Homo sapiens: one gene and its partners. The protein of the gene in region 4 interacts with the protein of the main gene of each other region in a pairwise test. Each region holds a gene or a part of one and is shown on either strand. Other genes may lie near its edges. The genes, in order: SPTA1, CCDC120, NDEL1 and PKP2.

Region 1 (6,908 bases), on a different chromosome or scaffold from region 4:
ATGCCTGTAATCCCAGCTACTAGGGGGGCTGAGTCAGGAGGATCACTTGCACCTGAGAGGCAGAGATTGCAGTGAAGTGGGATCGTGCCACTGCACTCCAGCCTGGGCAACAGAGTGAGACTCCAACTCAAAAAACAAAACAAAACAAAACAAAACAAAACAAAACAAAAACCAACCAACCAAACAAACAAACACTATGATTCTTATACACTTTTTTTTCTAATGTGGTGAGAAACAACATGAGATCTATCCTCTTAACACATTTTGAAGTGTACAATACTGTATTGTTAACACTTATACAATGTGTTGTACAGCACAGCTCTAGAATTCAATCATCTTTCATGGATAAAACTTCATACCTACTTAATACCTATTTTTCCTTCCCTCAGCCTCTGACAAGCACTATTTACTCTGTTTCTATGAGTTGGACTATTTTATATACTTCCTATAAGTGGTATCATGCAGTATTTGTCCTTCTGTGACTGGCTTATTTCACTTAGCATAATTTCATCAAGGTTCACTCATGTTGTCATATGTGACAGGATTCCATTTGTTATTATGACTGAATTATTTCAATTGTATGTACATGCCACTTTCATCAGTCATAGACATTTCAATTGTTTCCATTTCTTGACTTTTGTTAATAGTGCTGAGATAAACATAAAAGTGCAAAAGTGCAAATACCTCCTTACAATCCTGATTTTAATTCTTTTGGCTGTATACCCAGAAGTGGGACTGCTAGATTGTATGATAGGTCTATTTTTCGTTTTTAGGCAATGCTACACTGTTTTCCACAGTGGCTGCACCATTTTACATTTCTATCAACAGTGTACAATTGTTCCAACTTCTTCATATTTTCAGCAATACTTATTTTTCTATTCCTTTGAGAGTAGCCATCCTAACAGATGTGAGATAATATCTCAGTATCGCTTTGATTTGCATTTTCCTGATAGTGATGTTGAGCACGTTTTCTTATACCTGTTAGCCAATTGTATGTCTTCTTTGGAAAATCATCTGTTCAAGTCCTTTGCTCATTTTCTAATTTTCGTTTTTGTTATAGATTTGAAGAAGCTCCTTGTATATTTTGGATTTTAACCTCTTGTTAGATGTATGCAAATATTTTCTTCCATTCCATAAGAGAACTTTTTTTATTGCTTATTGTTTTCTTTGCTGTGCAGAAGATGTTTAGTTTGATGTAGTCCAATTTGTTTATTTTTGCTTTTGTTGCATTTGTTTCTGGTACCGTATCCAAGAAGTACTTGGCAAGACCAAACAGATCACTTTGCTCTGATGCCTGAGCAGCAGCTGAGGCAAGCTGTTCAGTGCTGATTAAACTACTATGTAAAGTACAAACCCTCCCTGAGGTGATAACCATGGCCAGATACAACAGCCCTCCAAATTATCCCCATCCTTTTAAAACTGTATAAAATACTAAATATATAATTCTTATTATATATGATAAAAGTCATAAAGCTTTTTCCTTGTGTTTTTTTTTTTCCAGGAGTTTTACAGTTTCAGGTTGTAATTTAAGTCTTTAATCCCATTTGAGTTGATTTTTGTACATAACATAAGGGTCCAATTTCATTTTTTTATGTGAATATGCAATTTTTCCAACACATATGTTGAAAAGACACTTTTATTTCCTTATGATCAGTTCTGCTGATTGGGCCATGCTATTTCTTTTTTTTTAAAATAAACATTATAGAATTAGTAAGCATTTTTACTTTCTTTTTATTGTGATGATTTTACTTTAGTTCTAGGACACATATGAAGAACATGCAGGTTTGTTACATAGGTATACACATGCCATGGTGGTTTGCTGCACCCATCAACCCGTCATCTACATTAGGTATTTCTCCTAATGCTATCCCTCCCCTATCCCACCACCCCCGCAACAGGCTTCAGGGTGTGATGTTTCCCTCCCTGTGTCCATGTGTTCTCATTGTTCAACTCCCACTTATGAGTGAAAACATGTGGTGTTTGGTTTTCTGTCCTTGTGATAGTTTGTGGAGAATGATGGTTTTCAGCTTCATCCATATCCCTGCAAAGGACATGAACTCATCCTTTTTTATGGCTGCATAGTATTCCATAGTGTATAGGTACCACATTTTCTTTATCCAGTCTTTCACTGATAGGCATTCAGGTTGGTTCCAAAGGGCTAATATCCAGAATCTACAAGGAACTTAAACAAATTTACAGGAAAAAAACAAATGACCCCATCAAAAAGTGAGCAAAGGATATGAATAGACACTTCTCAAAAGAAGATATTTATGCAGTCAGCAAACATATGAAAAAAAGCTCATCATAACTGGTCATTAGAGAAATGCAAATCAAAACCACAATGAGATACCATCTCATGCCAGTTAGAATGGCGATCATTAAAAAGTCAGGAAACAGCAGATGCTGGAGACAATGTGGAGAAATAGGAATGCTTTTACACAGTTGGTGGGAGTGTAAGTTAGTTCAACCATTGTGGAAGACAGTGTGGCAATTCCTCAAGGATCTAGAACCATAAATACCATTTGACCCAGCAATCCCATTACTGGCTATATACCCAAAGGATTATAAATCATTCTACTATAAAAACACATGCACACATATGTATATTGTGGCACTATTCACAATGGGCCATACTATTTCTTTGGTCACAAGGTTATCACATGTTTGGCATTCTTGCTAAGATGATTCTGGAACAGGGAAACAGAACAAATAATGTTGATGGACTAAGAGAAGATTGACTAAAAAAATAAGGAGCAGAGTGCCATGATAATCATATTGATATGGATTTGACTATTTAAATACTTTCAAACCAAATCACCATAGAATGAAACTTTGTTTTTTAGGGACTGTTTTCTCACATAAAGACGGGTATGATAATACCTGCCTCACAGAATTTTTAAAGATTAGAAATTAATGTAAATTGATCATGTTAATATATAAATATTTCATAGATGTTGATTCTTTTCTCTTAAAGATAAAATAATTTCCTCTCCTTATCCCAACTTCAGACAAATATTCCTCAGTGCATGTGTTATAGTGCAGTCTCTAAAATTATGTTCCTGCCTTTACTACTAAATTTGACTTGAATATAATGAAACTATATGGAAAAGTAAAGTAATCCAGACTTTCAAGAAGAGAATGTAAAGGACTCTCAGTTTTTCTATGTGAGATCCAAGAACAGGGGAAACCACAAATGTAGAATCAAAATCTTCTCTTGTAGATCATGGAAGTTAGATTATTCAAGCTGCATTTACACTGGAATGAAGTTTGGCATGGATAGCCCCACTGGCTTGTAGAAAGGTCTAAGAGCATCCCACTATTTTCTTTTTGCTTGTTTGTTTCATTTTTGTAAGTTAGTCTAAAATAACTATGCCTATGGAAAAAGTCTACCTCTTTTTGTTCTCCATTAAAATTAATACATACAGTAGGATGATTTATACCATATATATCAGAAGTCAGCCATATTTTCAACTTTTTTGTGACATCATTGGTTTGTCAAATAAGGTATCCTAATTTTTGTTTTACAAAATATTAATGAACACATCATATAACTTTTTTTGTTCCTTCCATTTAAATGATTAAGAGTACAACTAAATCAGATTTTTAAAGACCAAATTGTTGAGGTTAGGAATAAAATCTTATTTTGTGAAAGACTCTCTAGAAAAAGCCAGGATAATTCGTTGACTTAAAGACTGTGAAAAATCTGCAGTTGAGTTGGATGAAGTTGTTGAGCTGTATTTCCTATAAATATATGGGGTTTTTTTTCTAATTTTTCATCCAAAAACCTTACTTTCATTTTTTAAGTCTTATTGAGTAACTTTGAAAGCCAGAGCCTCCCAAAACTGCTGAGTCACCCAGTATCTGTAAAACTTAGCAGTTGCCTCAGCTGAGTATGTCTTCTAAAGATAATGTCGATTGTGTATGGCTGATGGGATTCTAGGACCAAGCAAGAGGTTTTTTTTTTTCCCCCACATACTTAACGTTTCTATATTTCTATTTGAATTCGACTGGACAGTTCCATTTGAATTATTTCTCTCTCTCTCTCTCTCTGACACATTTTATCTTGCCAGGTTCTAAACCTTTAGGAAAAATGGAGCAATTTCCAAAGGAAACCGTAAGTACATATTTCTCTTCCATGCAATTTGTCATTAATATTATTAGGAAAGATGTTTCCTTTAAACTTTCTATACTATCTTTCCCAGGAACATTAATAATTATTTGGCTTTTAACAAATAGATAATTTTACTTTTAACTATTTTTTGTGAACAATAACCTTGAGCTTATGTCTGTGCAGCACCAAGACCCAGTAATGACTTAAGTCGGTTCCCAGAGAGAATAAGTAGGGAGATTGAAGCTAAATAACACCTAGTAACAACGTGAGTCTCCATGTAATGATCTAATTCTATAGCCATGCCAGTAATGGCAATTCACAGAGTAGCAATTATACTTAGGAGGAATAATGGGAGATTAAAATTTAAACTCTATATTAAACATTTTGGCTGAGGTAAGCTAGGGAAAATGGTATCCATATCCAGAAGAATGAAGGTGAACCCTATGGTGATTTTGCTGGATATTGTCACAAACAGGTTGGCTCCCACTCTGGGAAAAGGATACTTATATATTGTTTTAGAGTAAAAGTTTTTATATTTCAAAAATAAATTGCAGACATGCTAATAATTTGAAATTTGTGACAATTGGGCAGAAGATAGCTGAACTTTTGATTTATAGTGTTTGTGAGTAAAGCAAGTAAAGAGTAAATATATGAGATTTATTTTTAAGTATGAAGGAAACAAAATTTTCAAACTGTTGCATATATCATTAACTAAATTAATTGCAAGCCATTCTTAATTATTTATTAAATTAAGTTAAAAATAATAAGCACTTCTCAACACCTTTTTAGCCCTTGAAAGCAATAACATTATATTTCTTTTTATCTATCTGAAATTATGTGATTTTGCTGATTTAAACTTGCTCCATGATCAGTCCAATATAATTATATCTATAGAACTTAAATGCTAGCACAAATTTATGTAAAAAGTGAGGAGAGTCTTCTGGATAATCAAGAATTTTTAACCTAAACAGAAGCTATGTCTGGTTAAAAATTACGTAAATATACTACAGCTCTTCTGACAATAGTCCCTAGAAACTTCAGGATATCTGAATATAGGTCCAACATGAGTAAACACCTTGACACATATAAGCGGGGCAACATGTTAAATATTTGAGAACTAGCAAGTAACAGAATCTTTTTAACTTGCAGGTTGTGGAGAGCAGTGGGCCAAAGGTTTTGGAAACAGCAGAAGAGATCCAGGAGAGGCGTCAGGAAGTGTTGACTCGGTATCAAAGTTTCAAGGAGCGGGTCGCTGAGAGGGGTCAGAAGCTTGAGGATTCCTATCACTTACAAGTTTTCAAGCGAGATGCAGATGATCTGGGGAAGTGGATCATGGAGAAAGTCAATATCTTAACCGATAAGAGCTATGAAGACCCAACTAATATACAGGTCACTCAGTTCTCTTGATTGCCTCAGAGCAGACCCTAAGATCTCTAGAGAAGGAAATAGGTTTTTCTTTATGTTAATGTTAATGGGTATGTGTGGGTACAATTAGATTCCGTTTAGAAACAAAAATAAGTCAGTGGAGTGGGAAGTTAAAGAAATAAATTAATAGAAAATCTAAAAGTGCATTTTCCCTTATGAAGTTGGAGAGGTGAGACTGAGAAAATAAGAATCAAACAAAAAGCAGCAGTTTTTCAGTTGTTGAAAGCACAGAACTGTTTTTTACAATGAACTTCCATTCAGAATATACATTTTTTAATCATTAACCAAGGATATTGCTTATTGATAAGGGCATAGGATACTTTACATATTTTCATGGTGAAGCATTCATCAATGCCAAAAGTAAAAAATTACATCAATTTTTTTTCAGATCCAGCACAAATATTATGGTAATGTAAGTGTATATCTGGTTAATTGTAGTGGGAGTGATGTAATGGAAAAATTAGACTGTCTGTTAGAAACAGTAATTCTGCCTCTAAATAGTCCATGTCTTCATCTTCATAAACATCGGGGTGTTATTTGCAAAGGAGATTTATTCTGTATAGAATTTGATGGTTACAATACTCATCTGAAATTGACCTACAGGCAAAACAGCAACTGCAAATTCAAGAAATTTCTGACAAACCATGTGATTTTTGATATTTTGGGACATTAAGAAGGGAAATAGGGTGAAGAGTCATCAATGCTTCTGAAGCAACTGTCCTCCACTCTTCTCAGAAATATAAGAGTTAACCAGGTTAACTAAAATCCAATTTAGTTAACCTGGTTAACTCAATTGCTATTCATGGCTCTTAAGTTTTTCCTAAAATGTTGTTCATGGGTCTCAAGTTCTAATGAGAGGTTTCAGTAGAAGTTTGGTGAAAGCTCCTACGCGTTTCTGATCACCTAAAATTATAGCATGTGATACCTGTTCTCTACTCTTCTCAGAGAGATGAGTTAACCAGAGTTTTTTTTTTTTCTTCCCTAAATTGCTATTCATGGCTCTTAACTTCAAAAGAGAGGTTTCAGTAGAAGAAATTTGGTGAAAGTGCCTACCCCTTTCTATTCACCTAAAATTATAGCATGTGGTGTTGTCATAATCAGAAGCAATTGATGTTGGACAGGAAACACCTAGAACAAGAGCAAAATAATGTGCTATATTGAATGGATCAATTTATAGATTACAAGAACAGGCACAGCATGCAAAAAAAACTCTCAATTTTTTTTTTTAAAAACCATTATTATAACTATCATCTTTCTCATTGTGCTCTACTTCCAAAAAAAAATCAGTTATTCCTCTTTTCTGATGAGGAAGGACACTGTGTGTTACACTCTTTTATTCCTATGGCAGTCTATTGAGCCTTTAAAATAAGGC
Region 2 (7,026 bases), on a different chromosome or scaffold from region 4:
TGAACCCAACCAGATGAGATCACAGTTTCCCTTTTGTAAAACGCCTAGTGTTGGAGGAAGACAGTGAATACCTAAGTCACAACTGTAAACATAAATGGAGGAAGGGGCTTGGGGTCCCCATGACATCATCCCCCCTCTTTTAAGCTAGCTGAGGGCCCCCAGTCCCCAGCACAGTGTGAGAGAAGAAGCAGGGTGTCAGACACCTTCCTGGGCCTACGGGGAGCCAGGGGCCTTGGAAGATTAGGTTGGCGCACTCTGCTCAGGACTGAGAGCAACCACACCCCAGGGCCCAGCGAGGTCAGCTGTGTGCTCCCCAGATTGGAATCGTGCCCAGGCCAACAAGGGACATATCAGAAGGGGTCAGACCAGTGTCCCCGGGGTCTGGGTGTCAGAACTGGAGGACTGCTCCCCCTCTAGCGTCAGGTCACTTAAACGAGCGCTCAGCTCCGGGGGATACAGGAAGTCCGCGTAGTATCTTTAGAAGGGGTAGCAGGAATCCGGAGGACAGGGCGGGGAAGACAAGAAGAAGAAAAGACAGACAAGACACAGAAAAAGAAAGGAAAAGAGGCTCGTTAAAGAGGTGGAGGCAGGCACAGGACAGCACTTTCAGGCTCTGGGGCATGGAGAAAAAAGGAAGAAAACAGCAAGGGGCATGAGATGTCCCTTCCTCCCGGCACCCTGGCTTCAAGGCTCATCTTCAGCCTATAACTTGATAAAGAATTGCTGCTACCAGTGCCCAAGATCCCCTCCACCAGGACCCCATGGACTAATGCAGGTCATGTGCAGTAGAGTGACCCTGTGCCATCACAGCAGCTAGTTTCCTCATGGTCCAATTCATTAGCTATCATGACTAGCCACTCCCTGGCCTGGATATCTTCGCCATCTGCCTTACGAGACCCCTACCCATCAGTAAAAGCACCCCCCATACCTGCCAGAGACAGGGGGCGCCGTGAAACTCCTCGAGTGTGGGAGTGGCGCCTGGCTGGGGGCCCCGTACAGCGCCTGGCCCACCTCATAGCAGCGGGCATGGAGGAAGGGTGGGTGTGGCGGGCCCACGGAAGGGAGCACAGGCCGGCGCTGGGGCCCCGCAGCCAGTCCCGAGTTCCGGATGTACCAGTCCCGCAGCCCCTCCAGAGCCAGGTTCTTGTGGCCACTGCGTTCACCAGCCGAGGGGATACGGGTGGGTGGGGGCATCCACAGCAGAGGGTTTGGATGCACCTCAGGGCCTTCGGCAGCCTCTGGGGGCAGGCCACAGGGCTTAGTGCGGGTGGCACGGGTGTGGGGGTCCTTGGTGCGGAGGAGGGGGCTGTTGCTGTCAGCTGCATACACAGGTGGTGGGCCGGGGAGCATGGTGAGGAGCCCATCCCGGCGGGAGAGGGGTCCTGGGACCTCAGCTGCAGGCGGCAGCTCCCCCCAGCCTGTTCCACCGCCACTGCGGGGCAGGCCCCGGTCCAAGGAATAGTCCAAGAGGAAGTCTCCACACACAGGTGGGAGCCGGGGGGCACCTCGGGAGGCAGGGGCAGCTGAGCTAGGCCGGGCGGCCCGGGGAGGGTCTGGGGGGCCTGCTGTGCGGGAGGAGAAGGCAGGGGTTGGTTGGGGGCGCTCATACAGCACCTCACTGCTCTTGCAGACTGGGGGGCCAGAGGCAGAGGGAGCCAGAGGGGCAGGCGGGGAGCCAGCTCCCCCACCAGCGGCCCGGTCCACCAGCAGGGCCTCAGAACTGTTGCTGCGGCGGGTGCGAGCTACGAAGAGGGAGGCGCGATCGGAGGCAGGGTCCGCCCGGGGGAAGCCCATCTGGGAGTCCTGGCTGCCGGACCACTGACGAGAATGAAGGCCTTCAGGTCTGGGGTGAGAGGCGAGGGTCATGGGAATAGGGTCAGAAAAATCAGGCAGAAGGCGTGCAGTGCCCTCCCTACCCCAGCCCTTTCTAAGCCTTCACTTTCACATCTCCAAATGGGCCCAAGGTTGGAAGCTGTGTGTATAAAGGTGGCAGGTAGTGACATGTAAAGGGCAGCTGAGGTTCTATCCTAGGCTAGGCGGTCAGGGGTAGAAATGCGTGGGGGAGGCCTGGCACTGTTAGCTCCAAGGGAGGTGTAAATCTGTGTAGGGACTCAGAGGAAAGGCTAGCAGAGTAGATGCCGGGCAGGGGGCTGTTCCTAATCCAGCTGACCCCTCCCCCTGCTAAGGCCGTTCTCATGGCTCGCACGGCCTCCAGGATTAAGTCCTAGGCCTTAGGGCTCACATGTAAAACCCTGCCTGAATTCTCTATCCGACCATACGTATGAACCACCCAAAGCTACCATCCCAACAGCCACCGTTCACAGAATGCAAGCCCCACAAGGAAGGGGACTTGGTTTTGTTCAGAGCCTGGGGAAAGTAGGCACTCTGTTTAAGAAGCAGAAGAGGACAGTGGTTAAAAGCATGGACTCTAGAGTAAAACTTGCCTGGGCTCAAACTCCAGGACTTCAGTTTACTAACAAGTTACTTAACCTTTCTGTGCCTCACTTGCCTCATCTATAAAATGGGAATAACAATAGCACCCACCTCACAGGGATCTGATTATGATTAAATGAGTTGATGCCACGTAAAACACTAATTCCTAGCAGATGGCAGGCACTCAGTATATGTTAACCAGAACTTATTATGTCCATGTCTTTCAAAGGCAGATATTATTATTTCCATTTCACAAATGAGGAGACTGACTCCTACCCCATTATCCACCGAGATGCCTGCTCACCTTTAATGCCCAGCCTCCCATGTCCCACACCTTTTGTTTTTTTGTTTGTTTTGAGACGGAGTTTCGCTCTTGTCGCCCAGGCTGGAGTGCAATGGCACGATGTTGATCTCAGCTCACTGCAACCTCCGCCTCCCGGGTTCAAGCGATTCTCCTGCCTCAGCCTCCGAAGTAGCTGGGATTACAGGCATGCCCCACCATGCCCAGCTAATTTTTGTATTTTTAGTAGAGACAGGGTTTCACCATGTTGGTCAGGCTGGTCTTGAACCCCTGACCTCAAGTAACCCGCCCGCCTCGGCCTCCGAAAGTGCTGGGATTACAAGCGTGAGCCACCGCGCCCAGCCATCCCACCTTTTGATAATGTTGTCCTCAAGCTTCCAGTGAGAACTAATGGTTCCCTCCCCTCTGATCCTCCAGCCCACCCTCAGATTCCCCTTACTTGCAGAGCTGGGGGCCAGCGCCCCGGGTGAGGACAGGGGTGGCAGGCACACTTCGCCCCTCAAAACTGGAGGCACTCCTGGGCAGCGAGCGTGTGGGGCTAGACAGAGACAGGCAGGCCTAGGTTAGAGACTGTACCCACCAGCAGACCCTCTGCCAGCCCAGGCTTGCTATCCCATTCCCAGCTCCTGCGGAGGGGAGGAGGGGCTCATTCTCACCTGGTGGGGCTGGCCACAGAGTTCCGCCGGCTCTTCAGATCCCCATAAAGATCTGATGGAGGTGGTTTCCATGGGGTTCGCCGCTCAGGGCTCCCCCCAGATACTGCCCGCAGCTGGTCCCAAGCCTTGGGTGGTGAGGGGCGCTCGGCCAGAGAGAAGCAGCCATGGGGCTCCTCTGAGTGGAAGAGAGCAAGTGGGATAGAATTCAATGAGGGGGGCCCAGAGGGGGCAGGACAGGCTGGGGGGCAAGGCCATGGGGAGGGGCAAAGTGCTGGGACAGGTTAAGCAGGCTGAGGAGGAACTAAGGCTGACAAGTAGGTTCTGGGGCTGTGGGGCTGGGGTGGGGTGAGGCTAAGAAGATGGGGGACCCATAGGAAGATGGAGCATGGCTAAGGAGAAGCTGAAGCAGCACAGGAGGGGCTGGGCATCAAAGGATGGGCTGATCATGCAGGATGTGGTCGGATGAATAAAGGGGATGGGCTAAAGGGACGTAGGAGTCGGGGGCAGGTTTGGGGGATAGGAGTCCTCACCGTTGTCATGGCTGGCCCCAGACTCTGAGAGGGAGCTGCTCTCTGAGTGCAGAACTACGTCCTCTACAGGTGAGAGGGGGAGAAGTGGGCCTCTCACTCCCAGGCCTGGGTGCTGCCCCCTTACACCACTGGGTGGGCACCTCTACTTGGGCCACCTTCTGGCCAGTTTCCGCCTCATCCTGTTCCTGTCCCAAGAATCTGCTTTTACCAGAGCCCAAGACCACCCCAGTTTGGTTCCTGACTGTCCTGGCAGATATTCATCAGTCCCCCACAGTTTGTCCTTTCCGGTAAGCCAGTTTGTCACAACTCTTCTCACGGGTTGGGCCACTTGAGTTGTGCCTACCTCCCGGTTTTCACCGGCCAGTCACCCATCCCAGCCCTACCACGTCCATTTGCCAGTGTCCACTCTCCCACCCTCACCAGGGGATGCTCACCTTGGCTGAGCTGAGCAAGACGCATGCCCAGGCAGACTCCCTGGGTGGTGATCACTGACCCCGTGGACAGTGGCAGTGGCTGGGGCAGCGGGAGCACTGGGAGGCCAAGGCGGGCCCGGACATCCCTGAGCTGCTCCTCTAGCTCATGCAGCCTCCTCAGTGCATCTGCCTGGACCTGGCGCCGGCGCCGGCGCTGCTCGGTGCTCAGATCAGGGGCCAAGGCCAGGCGGCGGGCGGCCGCCGCGATCTGCTGTTGCACTGACACCTCGCGTTCCAGGGCCTCAAGAGCCAGCTCCTGTTGGGCCCACCCAAATGTTGGAAATGGCCAGGAACAGGGACCTGGCGGGGCCAAACCCAGTAGAGGCTGGCCTGCACTTCCTGCAGCCTATTCAGACCTATTCACCCCGGGGAGGGGGCGTGTCAGGGCCTCTCTTGGTGAAGGGCTGGGTCTGTTCATCTTCCTTAGGGTTGGAGGCCTGTCCTGACAGTTAGGGACCAGCATCCTCCCTCATCACAGGAAACTAACTCCAGAAGCCCTTTTCCTTCTCATCTTAGCCTCTCCCTCACCTGGCCACAAGCCCCCTCCCCACACCTTCCTCCTGGCTACTCCTCTGTACCTGTCCCCTCTTCCCACCCTCTTGCTCTCCACACCCATCTGCTCACCTCAGCAGGGCACAAGGAGTGGTGTGCTTGGTTGGGGTGCGGTGGAGGGTAGGCGCGGGCTGTGGGGGGCCGCCGGCGGACCAACTGGGGCCGTTCACCAGGCTCTAGTGGGCACTCAGGGGGCAGCTGGCCAGTCAGCTCCTGGTGGGAGGCAGGGGTCAGAGACTACCAAGGGTTAGTTGGAAGGATGGGGTGAAGCATTAATGATCCCAGAAGCTACAGAAGTCCTACCAGGAGCCTGGCCCTGCTCAGCAACCACGCACGATACTCCCCTCCCTCCTACCAGTATCTCCACTAGGCAGGTGTGCCCAAACCTCAGTGGCCCAAACCCCTGGGGTGGTGGGCATGGGAGGCAGGGAGACCTGCTTTGGAATCCAGAATTGTTTTGTTTTTATAAAGGTGATACCATCGAGATCCTAAGTATTATATAACTCACTTCAGGGGCTGTGGCTGCGTGGTCTGAGCTGTAGTATTATTTCCGGCACACTGTGGGCATTCACAGTAAGAGGGGTAAACTGAAACTACAGATCAGCCTGTGCCAGTTCAGGTCAGACTGTGCTGCCAAATTTTGGACAGAACCTGTTTTCTGAGGTTTGTTGGATTTGAAATTGTCAACAGTGGGCCTGTATTACCATATTTTTTTTTTTTGAGGTGGAGTTTTGCTCTTGTTGCCCAGGCTGGAGTGCAATGGCGCAATCTCAGCTCACCGCAACCTCCACCTCCAGGGTTTAAGCGATTCTCCTGCCTCAGCCTCCCAAGTTGCTAGGATCACCACACCCAGCTAATTTTGCTTTTTTTTTTTTTTTTTGAGACAGAGTCTTGCTCTGTCGCCCAGGCTGGAGTGCAGTGGCGCAATCTGGGCTCACTGCAAGCTCCGCCTCCCGGGTTCATGCCATTCTCCTGCCTCAGCCTCCCGAGTAGCTGGAACTATAGGTGCCCGCCACCACGCCTGACTAATTTTTTGTATTTTTAGTAGAGACGGGGTTACACCGTGTTAGCCAGGATGGTCTCGATCTCCTGACATCGTGTTCCGCCCACCTCGGCCTCCCAAAGTGCTGGGATTACAGGCGTGAGCCACCGCGCCCAGCCTAATTTTGCATTTTTAGTAGAGACGGGATTTCTCCATGTTGGTCAGGCTGGTCTGGAACTCCCGACCTCAGGTGATCCACCTGCCTCGGCCTCCCAAAGTGCTGGGATTACAGGCGTGAGCCACAGCGCCCAGCCTATTTCATTCATTCTAACACATCTAAGCTGAGCTTTGAGGAGAAAGTAGGTGACAGGGAATCTACAGCCAAGACAAGTGGTTGAGGAATTGCCACCCAAGTCTGTCTACCTAGGGGCCCCAGCTCCTCACCTCCTCCCAACCTCCCCGCCTGATACCCCTAGGGCCAGGCCCTCACCGCCTCCTGGAGACACACTTTGCGGAGCTCCTGAAGTTTCAGGCTCAGGGCCTCCTGCAGGGTCCGCTGCCGGTCAAGCAGCCCCCGCAGACGCTCTGACTTCACCTGGGGGGCAGCCTCTCCGAACAGGGCAGCTGGACACAGAGGGAGCAAAGATCAGTGGGACAGCCAGGGCATTCTGGAGCAGCTGTGGGGCAAGGGACCAACTCTTCCCGAGCAAGCAGGTGGTGATTCAGAGCAGGGGAGGAGGCAGCAGGAGGGGAAGCAGCCACCGACCTGGGGCATTGAAGGTAGGAGAGCTGATCAGCTGACCTTTGACTTCCATCTTGGTGCTGTCGAGAGGCCGTGGCTGATGGCTGGACAAAGTCTGGCAGTGACACAAAGGAGCCGTTAAGGAAGCACATCCCATGATACCCCAACCCCCAGCCCTTCCCAGCTTCCCATGCCACAGCGGGGAATAAGGGGTAACCTGGGCCCCACGTGCCTGCTTGACCTGCCCTTTCAGAATCCGTGTGGATGTCTGGACCCACTTGGCCCTGGTACCTTGGTTCCCTTCGCATTGAGTGAGAGCACAGCAAGTGGGGAGCTGGGCGGACTTACAACGCCTCC
Region 3 (7,026 bases), on a different chromosome or scaffold from region 4:
TTAGAAAGTTGATTGATTATGGCTGAACTAACCACCATTATCAACTGAGATGAGTAAGTTTTGAGGCTTGAAATAGAAATGGTTTGAAATGCAAATTTTTATGTGCAGCTACTGTTTTGACAACCATATCATTCCTCCTTCTTTTTTGTAGGCTTTAGAATCCAAATTAGCAGCTTGCAGGAATTTTGCAAAGGACCAAGCATCACGAAAATCCTATATTTCAGGGAATGTTAACTGTGGGGTGCTGAATGGCAATGGCACAAAGTTCTCTCGATCAGGGCATACATCTTTCTTCGACAAAGGGTAAGTCCTGAATGTTTTAAGTGATAATTTTTTGAGTAGTAAAGTGACAGGTTAGTAAGTGAGCATAATGAAGCCTTGAAAAGGTAAACTCAGCTTGACAAACCTTCCCGAAGCCTGTTATCATTCTAATCTTAGGTGACATGACGTCTGTTGTTGTCCTCTAGTCCCCATGGAGTCTGTTGCCCCAGGAACCCTGAATCTGAGGCTTCTGTCCTGGGAAGCAGACTCTTGAAAGGCAGCAGTGTGAGGCTCTGGTGAGTCAAAATGACTGCGATAAGGTCCCTGTTCTCCAGGTGCTTACAGGCTGGCAGACTTGGAAATATTTTTTTGGGGTAGAAGACAGCATCACAATTAAATATATGCAAACTCTACAACAGACATCCCCTGTGAGAATTTTAGAGAAATATAAAGCCCTGAAGTACTTAGGCACTGGATCAAATACAGTTTAGGAGATACAACTTTTGTATAAAGTTAAGGCTTTTTTGAAGATTGAAATAAAATTGTTTTAAGGTTGAAGCATCCTTAATGCAAAAAATTTCAGTTAGTATGGAAGTATATGAACTAAAAAGTCATGGTTTCCTGCCTTCACACTGTTTCTGCATTCCTTACAGTTATTCCAAGGCATGCCAAATCATATTTTTATGCATCTGCTCTAAGTTGTTTGTAACACAGTTACGGGATTATACTTTAAATATTGCTTTGCAGTGTGCCTATCATGACTTCTATTGCCATTATCTTTCCATGTCATGTATATTATTCTACCTCAATTTACTTATTTATTTTTAAATACTACATGGTAATACGTGGTTGTATGAGTATGCCTTAATATAGGTCACTATTAGGACCCGTGGCCTGGGATGCTCACGGTGTTGCCTAAGGTAGTTGTTATTGAAACAGCCAACAGGCACCCGTGATCCTTGGCTACTGTCTCTGCTTTGAGTCAAAGAGGTAATTCTTGCTTGTTTTTCTCTGAAAGCAGAGCAGGTACAACTCTAGAAACGCTCACAATCTCTGAAAGCAGCTGGGATTTTCTGCCGTCCTCAATAATTATGGCACATGTGTAAAGGAGCAGATTCGACACACGGTGCACTCTGAATAGGCTCTTATCCTTGCAGTGGAGTGTTTTGGTTGATCTCTGTCCCTGATTTTACCCTGGAGAATATACATTTCATTAAGGATTTTGTATTAAAAGCACATCCTAAAACATCACTATACAAATTAGAACTTTATTCTTTCTTAAAAAATTTGTTTAAATAATTTTTGTTTTCTTTTGAAGAGATGGGGGTCTCACTCTGTTGCCTAGGCTGATCTCAAACTCCTGGGCTCAAGTGATCCTCCTGCCTCAGCCTCCCAAAGTGCTGGGCTTGCCGCCGCGCCCAGCTGAAATCAGAACTTTATTCTAACCATTGGGTTTCCTCGGGTGGAGTAAACATAAAATTGATTTTCCTCAGGCTTAGGAGTTTCAGGCAGACTTGCGGCAGCCCTTGTTTTTATAGTGGAATGATAAATGGAATGACTGGATGGTTTTACATGAGCGTAGCCATTTCCCCTGAATGATATGGAGAACTTTTAGGGTAGTCTTCATAAATGTTGGAAGCAGTGCCTAATTATTTTTCCCTACAACTTATAATGATCCTCTACTAGAGTAGTTATTAGTTTCTCCTTGGAATCGTATTTCTTGATGGGCCGCAGGTGCCTTTCATGAGAGCAGGTGTGAATCATAAATGGATAGGTCGGACAGGTGCCTGTGCGTGTGGAAGCCCTGAAGAACAGTCACGAGGAGGGAAGGATAACACTGTCTGTTCAGGGTCGCTACTCCTGCCCGCCACTTGCCTCCCAAGACAGAGCACCAGGGCAGGGATTGCCAAGAGGTGAGCCTGTTCTGAGGGAGATGTGGGGACCTTAGGGTGAGCTGAAGCCAGGAACAGGCCTTGGGCACACTGACTGCACCTCTGCCCCTTGAGAGCATCCGAGATGTAAGTGTAGGCTTTACTTCCTGAGCTGAACCCGGAAATGTGCTGTGCTTCCCAATCGGAACAGTTGCAGATACTGAGTTTTGGTTTTAAATGGTAGACATTTTACATTGTGCCTTTTCTATTAAGAAATATGCTTTTGTGGGCTGGCTGTTGTGTGAGTGTTTAGCTTATATGATAAGTGGATTGTGTATGCGCACTGAAATATTAACCTACTGTTGCTGGAGTTGTCTTTCTAGTTGCTGTATTCCTGAGGATAACTCTTTTGTGGGTTTTGCTGTGTTTTCACTTTCTTGCCGCTTTGCTTCGATTCCGGCTTTTGGCCTGTCTGGCTTTTTACCTCTGGCTTTTCTTCTGCCAACCTGTTGACCAGATAAAAACCAAGATGTTGTGTAGCAGCCGCAAAAGGAAGGGCAGGATATTCCACTTCCCAGGTCCATTATACACTCTGGCAGGTTAAAAACACAAAAGCCTGTCTGTGTAGAAGTGGAGAAGTATGGCTTGTAGTTTCAGCATGAGAAAAGTGCCCCATTTGAAAAAGCCCTCCACTGCAGAACCTGCCTGCCCTCCCTCTCACTCCTGAGGAGTCTGTAGCACCGTGGTGATGGCTCACTAGTGCTGCCAGAAACCTGCGGCAGGATTGTTTGGGGGAGAGACATCATCAAAGTAGGTTTGTGTGTGTGTGCATGTGTGCGGGTGTACATGTGTTCACCTTCCCACCCGCTGAAACTTCAGATGCAGTGAAGCCTTCTCACATAAAACAATATACCTTAACTGGGCGTATTGCTCTGTGGGATTCAAAAGTATTTTGTAAATTCTGGTCACTTGAGGGCTTCTTGGAATCAGGTTTTTGTCTAGTCTGTGAGCACTTCTGCCAGTTCCTGAAACATGGGCTGCCGTGCCTGCTTCCCAGGTGCCGAGCTGTTTCCTTCAACCATGGTCACCCTTTGTCTCACCATCTGAAAGGACACACATTTCATGTGGAGTGTGGTCGCTTGGAGTCTCTCAAAAACACTCTTTTTTTTCCCATAACTTTATGTAGTTTCTTAGGTAACATGTGCTCTATTTTTGTAAGCCACTCTGAGTTCTTTTGGGCTGTGTGTAGGTGGGCATGGACTAATTTTAGGGCGTGATGTGGAAATAGTATTCGTATTACTGTTTAATATGTTCTCCTTTCTTTTATTAGGCAAGAAAAAGTCATATTTCCCACGTTGTTCATGGGTAACTGAATTTGTTTGCTGTGCTCTTTTTCATTCTTTCTTAATCCTGGTGTGTGGTGGAAGACACATTAACAATCTGGTTTTACTAACTGCATGGGGCTGACTCAGCTTTAACCAACTTACAGCCCATCAGTGAACTTTCACGGTCCTGTTCGACTTGACTGTATGCCGTTATTAGTTCAGCTGTGAGAAACAAGAACAAATTAGTTGCAGTGGTCCTGGGGTGGCTGGGAGTAGCATGCCAGGTGGCACGCCTGAGATGGGCTAGGGCGCTGTAGTGTTGATTTCAGAGTCTGGCGATGGGGGTTTGAGGTCACTGTCAGGCCCTGGGATCACCTTTGACTGTCTTCCTGGGACTGGGGGTCTTCCCGTTACCCAGTTGCTTCTGTTTTCTCAAGTCAGGCACCAGTGTGAGCATTCCCTCACCTCTGCGCTCACGCATGGAGTCCCCAGTTAAAATGGAATGGTACATGGGGACGTGTGTAAGATCTGCCTTACATTTCAGAACTGCTTTGCAGTTTGCAGAGCCTGGGCTGAGAACTGGAGCAGGCTGGAGCTGCTCTGAGCCCACACTCATCCACTGAAATAGGAGACTCAGGTGTGGCGTGTGCCTGCCTGCAGGCTCTTCTGGATAGCTTGAGCCCACCCTCCTGCCCTCTCCAGTGTCCTGATCCTTGCTGCTTTGACAGAGTTAATGTTTCCATCCTTCATCTCAGCTGCTTTGGATTTATTGTCCTGAGTAGCTTCTAAGTGTGCCTTGGCTCTTCCCCCTTTTCACTTCTTCCACTGACATTTTACAACTGACCTTAGCACTTTTTCTTAGCTGGATTCTCTATATTTCAGCCTCCTTAACTAGTCTGTGGTGGTAAGATCATGAAATTTTATAGCTCTGGAACCTTTTTTTTACATATATGATTCCCAGATCTGTATCTTCAAGCCTGCCCCATCACTCTTCCTTCAGTCCTGTCTTGTGCACTGGGACATTGCCCTGTGGCTCTTTGCTGCTCCCTGAAACTGAATCTGTTGAATATAGAGTCTCTTCTCTTGCAAATCTTTTCCCCATGCACAGCTTTGCAGGCCTCTGAAGGACTTCACTAGACCTGTCATCCCATCTAGAAGGCCAGCTTTCTTCTCTCTCTGTTCTTTAACTTTCTACTTTTTGAGTCAGGAGAGAGGCGCTAGGTGAGACCCTGGTGGATTGATGTTCCCTCTCTACTCCACCCACCTTCACATTAAGCGTTCCATTTCTGCCCATGTAGAAATTTACCGGTTCTCTCTTTATAGTCTGGGCTGCACCACTTACTTTTCCCATTAGAGCCGGCCTGCATTGGAGTGCCGAAGTGGTTGCTTCTGAGGGCTGCTAGGTGGCCTCTGACCAGGAGGAGACTAGAAAAGGGTCCTGGCCTGGGCATCTGGAGGCAGCTGTGGCCCCGACTTCCCCATCAGTGGCTCACTAGGTGAGCCTAGGCTAATGGCTGGACCTTCTCTTGCTTTGGTTGTCTTGGCAGTGGAACAGTGGGATGAACCTGTTGTTCCTTACGGTGCACTTGAAAATGCCAGAATCCCATCCTCAACCTGCTTGAGGAGCCATCTCCTAGTTGCTGCTTTTGTACACCCCCGTGGCCCAGGTGCCAGATTCTTCTTGGCATCCAATGGTGCTCCCTTTCTGCTGGGTTCCGGGCACTGTCTGCAGTACAGGTTTAGGGGCTTGCCTGCCACTGTGATGTGTGAGGCCAGGAATCTGAGGTTCACACGTGCTGAGAGCTGCAGGCATTTGTGGGGCCTGCCTGGTTGTCCCTGAGGTTTCTAGGAGAAGCAGGTGTCAGGGACTCTGGGACTAGCCAGACAGATGGAGCCTATTATATGAGGGCTACCGTGGCAAATAGGATATGGCCTTGGCCCCAGAAGAGGCACAGGCCTGTGACCTTGGGAGAGTGGGAAGGATGATTTCAAACTTGCAAATGTGTTGAAGCTCAAAAATCAGACCTAACCCAGTGAGGAAAGAGACAATCTGGCTGTTTGTCGTCGAAGTAGGACAGTGTGCAACAGGGAGAAATGACATTTGTCAGAGCCTTTCTCCTGGGGCTCTTGGTCTCTGTATGCGTGGTTGGAATTTAAACTCCACATATGTACTCTGAGTTTAGTTTCTTTAGACATGAACTTTGTTTCTTCCAAGTAGGCAGGGACTATTTGTCAAGTCTCTGCATGCCTGTTTGTCTGTGAGGTTATCCTCACCCCGTCAGTGTACGAAACAGCTGTCTCTGCAGGGAGTGTGTGTCGGCATTTTTTTTTTTTAAGGAGAACCTCTCTCCATGAGTCTGTATTTAGCTCCCTGGAGCCGTCTGATGAGTAGGTGGGGGCAGTAGTGGGCAGGTGTGGTGCAGTGTGGCCCCTTGTCGTAGTTGGCTTTATCTCCCAAATTGCTAGTGGGACAAATTTTCCTAGGAAGCGTTTCAAGGTGGAAAGGCTGAAGTGGCTCCTGAGAGAGGTTCCAGGCTGCACACTCCCTCCCCCTCTTGCTGCTTCCTGTGGCTGCGCTGCATGGTGCGTGAGGGGGATGCTTGGGGGGCTCCCTGCATCGCTGGGCTCTGGGTGCGTGATGGGGACGCTGGGGGGCTCCCTGTGTCGCTGGGCTCCGGGTGCTGGGTCCTGGCTGCAGGCTATTGGGTTGGGCTGGGCTGTCTGCACACGAGTCTGCGTTGAAAAGCCTACTCATCTGGCGTTGCTTGCTAAACAATTTTTAAAAGGTTATTTTTCTCCACCTTATTAAGATATTCGTGTATTAATACATTATATTTGGAAAATGTAAGGAGATTTGGAAAATGATTAAAAAAGGATAAAGTAGTAAACAAAATTCACCCACAGCCCAGAGGGAAGAAAAGTAACGATTCTTAAATTTTCTTTTTATGATATATATGATCCTATGTACATATATGTTGGTGTGTGTATATATATATGTGTATGCGTATATATAATGTATGTATATATACATTTATTTATACACACTCCCCCTCTGTCCCTGCTTTGTGGATTTAGCTGCATGGATAGTAATGTCTATCTAAGGGGCTATAGTCTAGAATCTAGAATATATACTATTTGCTTTTTTTTCTTTCATATCATTGAATCTACAGAGTTTGGTAACCTGCATCTTTTTCCACTTAGTGTTAGTTACATTCTGAATATTTTCCCATGCTATTAAAAAACTTGTGGAATGTGTTTTTAATGGCTGTGCAATATCTTATTGTTCAGTTGTACCATTATTTATTTAACTAGTTCCCTATTGCCAGGCATTTAGACCTGCTTTATGGGGAAAGAATCAGGACTGTGGCTTCCGTGGCCAGTGTGCGGCAGTTGCCAAACAGGTCATGTGGTCCTGGTTCCCCAGGATTCCCAAAGGCTCAATTCTCTAACCAGCTGGTGCTTTCCAGGCAGCCAGTGCCCCTTGGGCCATCAGGACCCTACAGCCTGCGAGGAATAGTTTTAGAAAGCAGATTAATTTCCTATTGTGTGTGAGTGATTTTAAATGAGTT
Region 4 (7,026 bases):
TAGGATGAAAGCAATGCTTTGGAAAGATGACTCTGGAATGGATATGTGTTTCTTGAAAGAGAGACAGCGTTGAGGGCACTATAAAAGGTTCAGCTGAGGCAAAAAAGCCTTGAACTGGGCTGTTAAAAATGGAAATGGAAAAAAAAGGTAGAGTTGAAAGAGATGAAAAATTAAAGAACTAAAGCAGGTAGTAATTAAGAGGACGTGGAGGGAAGTCAATATGATCTGTTTTCTGCTCTGCAGTGCTCTTGGTCACAAATTTGACTGTCAATCCTAGAGAAGATCCACCCTCTCTGCTTAGTCTCCCTCAACTAATCCCAGAGCACGATGCTCTTGTGGGTTTTGTTTGTTTTGCTTTGAGACAGGGTCTCACTCTGTTGCCCAGGCTGGAGTGCAGTGTCACGATCATGGCTGACTGCAGCCTGGACCTCCCAGGCTCAAGTGATTCTGTTGCCTCAGCCTCCTGAGTAGTTGGGGCTACAGGCATGCACCACCATGCCCAGCTAATTCTTGTACTTTGTAGAAGTGGGGTTTTGCCATGTTGCCCAGGCTGGTTTCAAATTCCTGGGCTCCAGCAATCTGCCAGCCTCAGCCTCCCAAAGTGCTGGGATTACAGGTGTGAGCCACCATGCCCGGCCCTGCTCTTGTGTTCTTTAAATTTCTGTAGACACTAATATGTATCACACAACCTAGCACTTGATGATATATCCTATTTTTCACTGCTCCTCTCCTAGACCATCATACATCTCACTCAATTTTCATCTTTTATTTATTTAATTATTATTTTGGAGACTGAGTCTTGCTCCTTCGCCCAGGCTGGAATGCAATGGCACGATACCAGCTCATTGCAACCTCCGCCTCCTGGGTTCAAGCAATTTTCCTGCCTCAGCCTCCTGAGTAGCTGGGATAACAGGCATCCACCACCATGCCTGGCTAACTTTTGTATTTTTAGTAGAGACGGGTTTTCACCATGTTGGCCAGGCTGGTCTCAAACTCCTGACCTCAAGTGATCCGCCCACCTCGGCCTCGTAAAGTGCTGGGATTACAGGCGTGAGCCACCGCGTCCGGCCCATTTTCATCTTTTGTGATGCTTACTGGGAAGGACCTATGAAGATCCTACTACTCATTTGCAGAACCATCAGCCTCCAACTGGTCATAAATCATGGTTTTAGAAAAATTCATCTATAATTTTTTTTGTGGTGATTCTTAAAAACCTTTTTCATCAGTTTGATTTAGAACATCGGTTTCATCAGTTTGTCTCTCTCACACTCCAAGTCTCAGTTTTTAGCTGCATTAGTAACTGTTTAACCAGCCATTCTTCTTTTGGAAAGCCAGGTCCATTGTTTAATACCTTAAGTCATTATGCAGGTTTATGGTTTTGTCCAGTTAATATTCAACATATATGAAAGAATACTCCTTTACATGTGGGAGTTTCACTAGGCATAAAAACTTAAATCCCCCCCAAAAAAGGGCTGGACAAAGTTTGACAATGCGGGACCAAAGAGAACACAGTGTGTGGTCTCAGGGCAGGTGTCCCAGGGAGCAGCCTGGGGAACTGAAATGAGGCGTGGAGCCCAGCAGAGGAAAGGGGGAGGTCAGACAGGCACAGGCACCACCTTGGGCATCTATCTTCCTCATTACACAAAATACGTCTGGCTCCCTCTCCTTTTCACAGAGAGCCAAATTTTCCTTTCATAATCAGAGAAAAAAAGTTGATTTCTATGATTTCTACTCTCTAGAATTTGGGGAAATCTCAGGAAGAGATTTCTTACTCATTATTTTTAAATTTCTTGACCCCAAGTGTTCCTTCTACTCTTGGAAATATGATTAAATATTATAATACAATTTACCCTGTCTATTAAAACAATAATCCAAAAATAGTATGACTAATACTTCTAGAATTTGAGCAACAAAAGAACCTAGATGGCAAAAAGTAAAATTTATATTTCATTTCTCCTTCCTTTAATTCCTTCACTCTTTCACCATATACTTATTTTTTGAAAGAAGATCTCATTCTGTTGCCCAGGCTGGGGTACAGTGGCACAATCACAGCTCACTGTAGCCTCAACCTCCCTGGCTCAAGCAATCCTCCCACTTCAGCCTCCGGAGTAGCTGGGACCACAGGTGGGCACTATCACGCCAGGCTAAGTTGTTTATCTTTAATAGAAGTGGGGTCTCGGGGTCTCCCTATTTTGCCCAAGCTGGTCTCAAACTCCTGGGCTCAAGCGATCCTCCAGCCTGGGCCTCCCAAAGTGCTAGGATTACAGATGTGAGCCACTGTGCTGGCCTCATCATATATTTATACAGTGCCTACTATAGGCCTACTTCCATTTTAGGGTGCTGAGAATATAAAGATGATTGAGCATTCACAAAAATCTCAAAGTCCAGAGGGAGAACAGATAAGCAAATGAATAGCCACAATATATTTTTCTGATAGAGACACTCACACAAGGCTGCTATCTGGGGCACCTAAGCTAGACTGGGAAGGAAGTGGTCAGAAAATAGGTGGTATCTGAGCTAAATCCAGAATTATAAGTAGTCAGACAAAAGTAGAGCTGCATATGTAAAGGTGTGGAGTGGGGGAAAAGAAGGAAAGAGAGAGAGAATGAATATGGATAAATATCTTGCATTAAGGAAAGTAAAGAGGTTCCAGGTGGTTTGGGTATTGGTATGTGGGTATGTTTGGGGATGGTGGTGATGAATGGCAGAGAAGAGTAGAAGGAGAAGAGGCTGAAGTGATAAGCAGAGCTGAAAACACAATGGGGCTTGTAGGTCATGCCTAAAAGCATGAACACTTAGTGGAATTATGGAAGGGTTATAAACAATCACATGTGGAAAGATAATTCTGACAGTCCTAGAGAACGGTTCTGACTGAGCAAGACCAGAGGCAGAGAGCCCTGTGTAATGGAAATGGAAAGAAGGGTAAAAATTCAAGACCCATCATAGAAGGAAAAATATGGCTTGGTGATAGGTGACTACAGAGGGAGAAGATAAGAATGACTTCCAGGTTTGAAAATAGTAGACTACAGCAGGAGGAGATGGGTGGAAGTTGAGGATAGGGAGATGATGAGTTTAGTTTAGGATATACTGAGTGTGAAATTTCCAGGAGGTTGTTACATTTTCATATAGGTCCAGAATTTGGCATCAAGGATGGAATTGCAGACAAAACTTTGAGAACCATAAGGATAAAAGTGAGGTACACAGAGCCTCTCTGGAAGAGCATCAAGACTTGGAATAGAAGGGTTACTGAAGATGCCTTCTTTGAGCAGGCAGAAAGGGAGCACGCAGAGAACACTAACAAAGAATGGCTGGAGAGGTGAGTGGAAAACCAGGGGAAGCTGGTGCCCTGAAAACCAAGGGATGAGAGAATTTCATGGTGTCTCAAACACCACCCACAGGTTGAGTAATATAAGCAGTGCTTATATTACTCAATATAGTGTCTGCTTAGGATGTAGCAGATAAGGCCATCATTGCTACATTTGTCAGGAGACTGTTTAGGTGGAATGGAGGGGACTGAAATCATATTGCAGTGGGTTGACGAGAGACTGGGAAGTGACAGGGTGGTTCAAGAAGCAAGGGACACAGAGATGGAGGGAGAGAATGCCAGTTGTTGGAGGATGTCAGATAATAATTTTGTTACTGTTAAAATCATTTTGCTAAAACTGTGGCTATCACAAATCCTAGGCTATGGTAGGCATTCCATAAATTTTGAATTACCTGTTTAAAAGCCTTTATCAGCTTTTTCCTCCATAAACAATGACCTGATACACTTTCTCTTTTTTTTTTTGAGACAAGGTCTCACTGTGTTCCCCAGGCTGGAGTGCAGTGGCACAAATCTTGGCTCACTGCAACCTCCATCTCCTGGGCTCAAGTAATCCTCCCGCCTCAGCCTCTCGAGTAGTTAGGACCACACGTGCACACAACCACACCCAGCTAATATTTGTATTGCTCGTAGATATGGGGTTTCATCATGTTGCCCAGGCTGGTCTTGAACTCCTAAACTCAAGTGATTCGCTCGCCTGGGCATCCCAAAGTGCTGGGATTACAGGCCTGGGCCACTGCTCCCGGCTTATTTTTCCTCTTTGTAAGTATGCTCATATTGCCTAAGGTCTGCTTACTATAAGAAATGTTAGAAATCTCATGGTGAATTTTACATCATAAAAAATATTTCCTGTGTTAAGATTAGATTAGCCCTCATCATTTTGAGAAGTAGTTTATTAATGATGCTACCTGGTCAGTGAGCATGCTGTACAATTTCACTTGAAGGGATGTTTAGAGGTAACAACTATCATTAGACAACTTTAGCAATCAAATGACAATAACATATCTAATGTTTTAGCCTAATGATGTTAGATCATTATTGCAGGAGTTACTGATCTAATCAGCCATCCATTTCTCAATCTTTCTCTTAGTAACGTGCACAGTTTATAAAATTTGTGATCAGGCATTAAACTTGAATAAGGGTTAAGTTCCAAACACTAAATTAGTCAAGCTATAAAGTAAATAGGAATGGAAAGGAATGACTTAAAAATTCAGTTATTTTAATAATTTAATACTGCCAAAAGAATACCCCTTCAAATCACTGACACTAGAAATCTAAAAGGTACCAAGTACCAAAGGAAGAAAAAAGACATCTAGAAGTCAGCCATCTTTCCTTAGCTCTTTTTACAGTCATAGTTATCCAAATGGCATTCGTGCTAAGAATAAGCATTTTTTCCTTTTATTTCATGGGATGATGAAGAAAATACGCATGCAATTCTCCAATTCTTGGCCTACTTTGGAGTTTAGAGCAGATTTTCATATGGCTGAGGGGTAGGGTCCCTTCAGCCAGCATCTAATCTGGAACAGATGGACTAAATGTCACATTTCCATACAAAGCTGCCATGTGAGCAGGTAGCTTGGCCCCTGTCCCTGAGGTAAATAGGCTGATCTGTCAATTAGGCAGCTGCCTGAAAAGTCATTATTTTAATCACTTATCTCTGGAAGCCCTTCTCTCAAGCCCCAGAAGTGCCAGCTCATGCTGTCAGGGCTGTGGGAACAGAATGTGCTGGCAATGACTGAACTGCAGAGTCAGGAGGGGACTTACCCCAGCTGGGAGTCAGTGAAAGTGCTTCTCTCAGTGAGCAGATTCCCACTTCCCCCTGCGGCCGCCTGGCCGACAGTCAAGTGCGCTCTCCTCCCGCTGGAATCCACGGCGACACTGGGCCCAGCTTCCCTCAGCGTGCGGGTGCTGTGGAAGGAGCTCTGATGCCAGGAGGACCTGGAAGCCCTGTTCTGAGTGACGGGCTGCAGGGGCACCAGCGGCCTGACCTGCCCGACAGTGAGCCCTGCCGTCAGGTAGTTCTCCTTCTCCAAGAGGTTGCCCATGCTGCGGCTGGTCCCTGGCCTGGGGTACGTGAGCAGGGCCGGGTTGGCAGGGATGCTGTCAAAAACGGTGTCGCTAACAGAGCCATGCTGGTACTGTCTGTGGTATGTGTCAAAGTGGCGCTGCCTGCTTGTGGTGCCAGCACGGCTGACCCCCACGATCTCGGAACGAGCATATCTCGGTGGCACTAGGAGGGCGGCCCGCCTGCTTTCTTGGTGGTGCAGGGTGTGCCCAGCCTGGCTTCTCTGGCTGTACTGGTAATCGCTGTGCGTGTAGTGAGCCCTCTCCGGGCTGCTGTCAGGAGAAATCTCCAGTCTCCTCAGAGGATGCCTCAAGGACCTTTCTTCCACGGACTTCTGGGAGCTGTACTGTGCTGTTCCTCTTCCCCAGCGACCTTCATAAGTGGCAGTTGTGCCAGCCTGCACATGAGAGAAATAAAGTTTAAAGGGGGCATAAATCAAATTTCAACTTTGCTGAGGACTAATTACTCTGGGACTATTACCCAACATGTCCGTTTCTCTGAATCAGATGACGAGAAGTTTGCCCCTTTCTGGGTAAAGGCTTTTTGAAAATAAGACTTGGTTGACTTGAGTCATATTTATTTGCACTAGGATGTAAGAATGTTTCACATCCCTAGTTTTCCATGGTATCCTCATAAATATCAATTTTCTCAAAACTCATTTAGGAAATGATAATACTTGGGAAAAGTAAACACTCAAAAATAATCTTAGGAAGTTTGAAAATATTTTCATGGTAGTAATCTGATCACTAGGGTTACATTCTTTGATATCCTACCTTTAGCATGTCATAGGTTTTAGGAACAGGGGAACGGCCTCCAACAAAATCATTTTCAACCAAGTGTAGGTTGTAGACATACTCAGGAACACTGCTGGTTCGGTGAAGATTTCCTGCAATCAAGCAAATATTAAAATAACTCAGAATACAAGTAGGCTAATTAATATTTACAGACTGTATAACAATGATGTATTAAACTTTTAAATTTAAGTAATGAAGGCCAAGAACAAGTATTAAACGTACGTTAATGTTTTTAAATGCTAGTTTCACACCACCCTGGGATATGGCAAGTGATCAAAGGTTATCAAAACATTCTCTACAAAAGTTTTTCAGCTGGGTGTGGTGGCGCACGCCTCTTATCCCAGCACTCTGGGAGGCAGAGGCAGGTGGATCACCTGAGGTCAGGAGTTCAAGACCAGCCTGGCCAACATGGCGAAACCCATCTCTACTAAACATACAAAAATTAGCTGGGCATAGTGGCGGGCATCTGTAATCCCAGCTACTCAGGAGGCTGAGGCAGGAGAATCACTTGAACTCGGGAGACAGAGGTTGCAGTGAGCCAAGATCACACAATTGCACTCCAGCCTGGGCAACAAAAGTGAAACTCTGTCTCAAAAAGAAAGTTTTGGCTGGGCACGGTGGCTTACACCTGTAATCCCAGAACTTTGAGAGGCAGAGGTGGGTGGATCACCCGAGGTCAGGCATTCAAGAGCAGCCTGGCCAACATGGTGAAAGCCCCTCTCTACTAAAACTACAAAAAATTAGCTGTGCGTGGTGGCAGGCACCTGTAATCCCAACTATTCGGGAGGCTGTGGCAGGAGAATCGCTTGAACCCAGGAGGTGGAGGTTGCAGTGAAGCTGAGATT

What was found.
Region 1: the proteins of PKP2 (region 4) and SPTA1 interact in binary tests that used the Homo sapiens proteins (3 or more experiments, as listed by UniProt).
Region 2: the proteins of PKP2 (region 4) and CCDC120 interact in binary tests that used the Homo sapiens proteins (3 or more experiments, as listed by UniProt).
Region 3: the proteins of PKP2 (region 4) and NDEL1 interact in binary tests that used the Homo sapiens proteins (3 or more experiments, as listed by UniProt).

Annotation. Positions count from the first base shown.
Region 1 is NC_000001.11:158,683,700-158,690,607, reverse strand, and holds the start of SPTA1 (spectrin alpha chain, erythrocytic 1), read left to right. Parts: upstream 1-3,892; 5' UTR 3,893-4,090; coding exon 4,091-4,114; intron 4,115-5,260; coding exon 5,261-5,500; intron 5,501-6,908.
Region 2 is NC_000023.11:49,061,993-49,069,018, reverse strand, and holds part of CCDC120 (coiled-coil domain-containing protein 120), read right to left. Parts: 5' UTR 6,978-7,026; coding exon 6,915-6,977; exon of another isoform or gene 6,902-6,914; intron 6,785-6,901; coding exon 6,694-6,784; intron 6,552-6,693; coding exon 6,418-6,551; intron 5,159-6,417; coding exon 5,018-5,158; intron 4,650-5,017; coding exon 4,355-4,649; intron 3,984-4,354; coding exon 3,921-3,983; intron 3,566-3,920; coding exon 3,391-3,565; intron 3,273-3,390; coding exon 3,174-3,272; intron 1,844-3,173; coding exon 929-1,843; coding exon of another isoform or gene 907-928; exon of another isoform or gene 476-906; coding exon 361-475; 3' UTR 1-360. UniProt on the Homo sapiens protein: Centriolar protein required for centriole subdistal appendage assembly and microtubule anchoring in interphase cells. Together with CCDC68, cooperate with subdistal appendage components ODF2, NIN and CEP170 for hierarchical subdistal appendage assembly.
Region 3 is NC_000017.11:8,459,858-8,466,883, forward strand, and holds part of NDEL1 (nuclear distribution protein nudE-like 1), read left to right. Parts: intron 1-151; coding exon 152-303; intron 304-3,462; coding exon of another isoform or gene 3,463-3,497; intron 3,498-7,026. UniProt on the Homo sapiens protein: Required for organization of the cellular microtubule array and microtubule anchoring at the centrosome. May regulate microtubule organization at least in part by targeting the microtubule severing protein KATNA1 to the centrosome.
Region 4 is NC_000012.12:32,872,760-32,879,785, forward strand, and holds part of PKP2 (plakophilin-2), read right to left. Parts: intron 6,274-7,026; coding exon 6,161-6,273; intron 5,785-6,160; coding exon 5,087-5,784; intron 1-5,086. UniProt on the Homo sapiens protein: A component of desmosome cell-cell junctions which are required for positive regulation of cellular adhesion.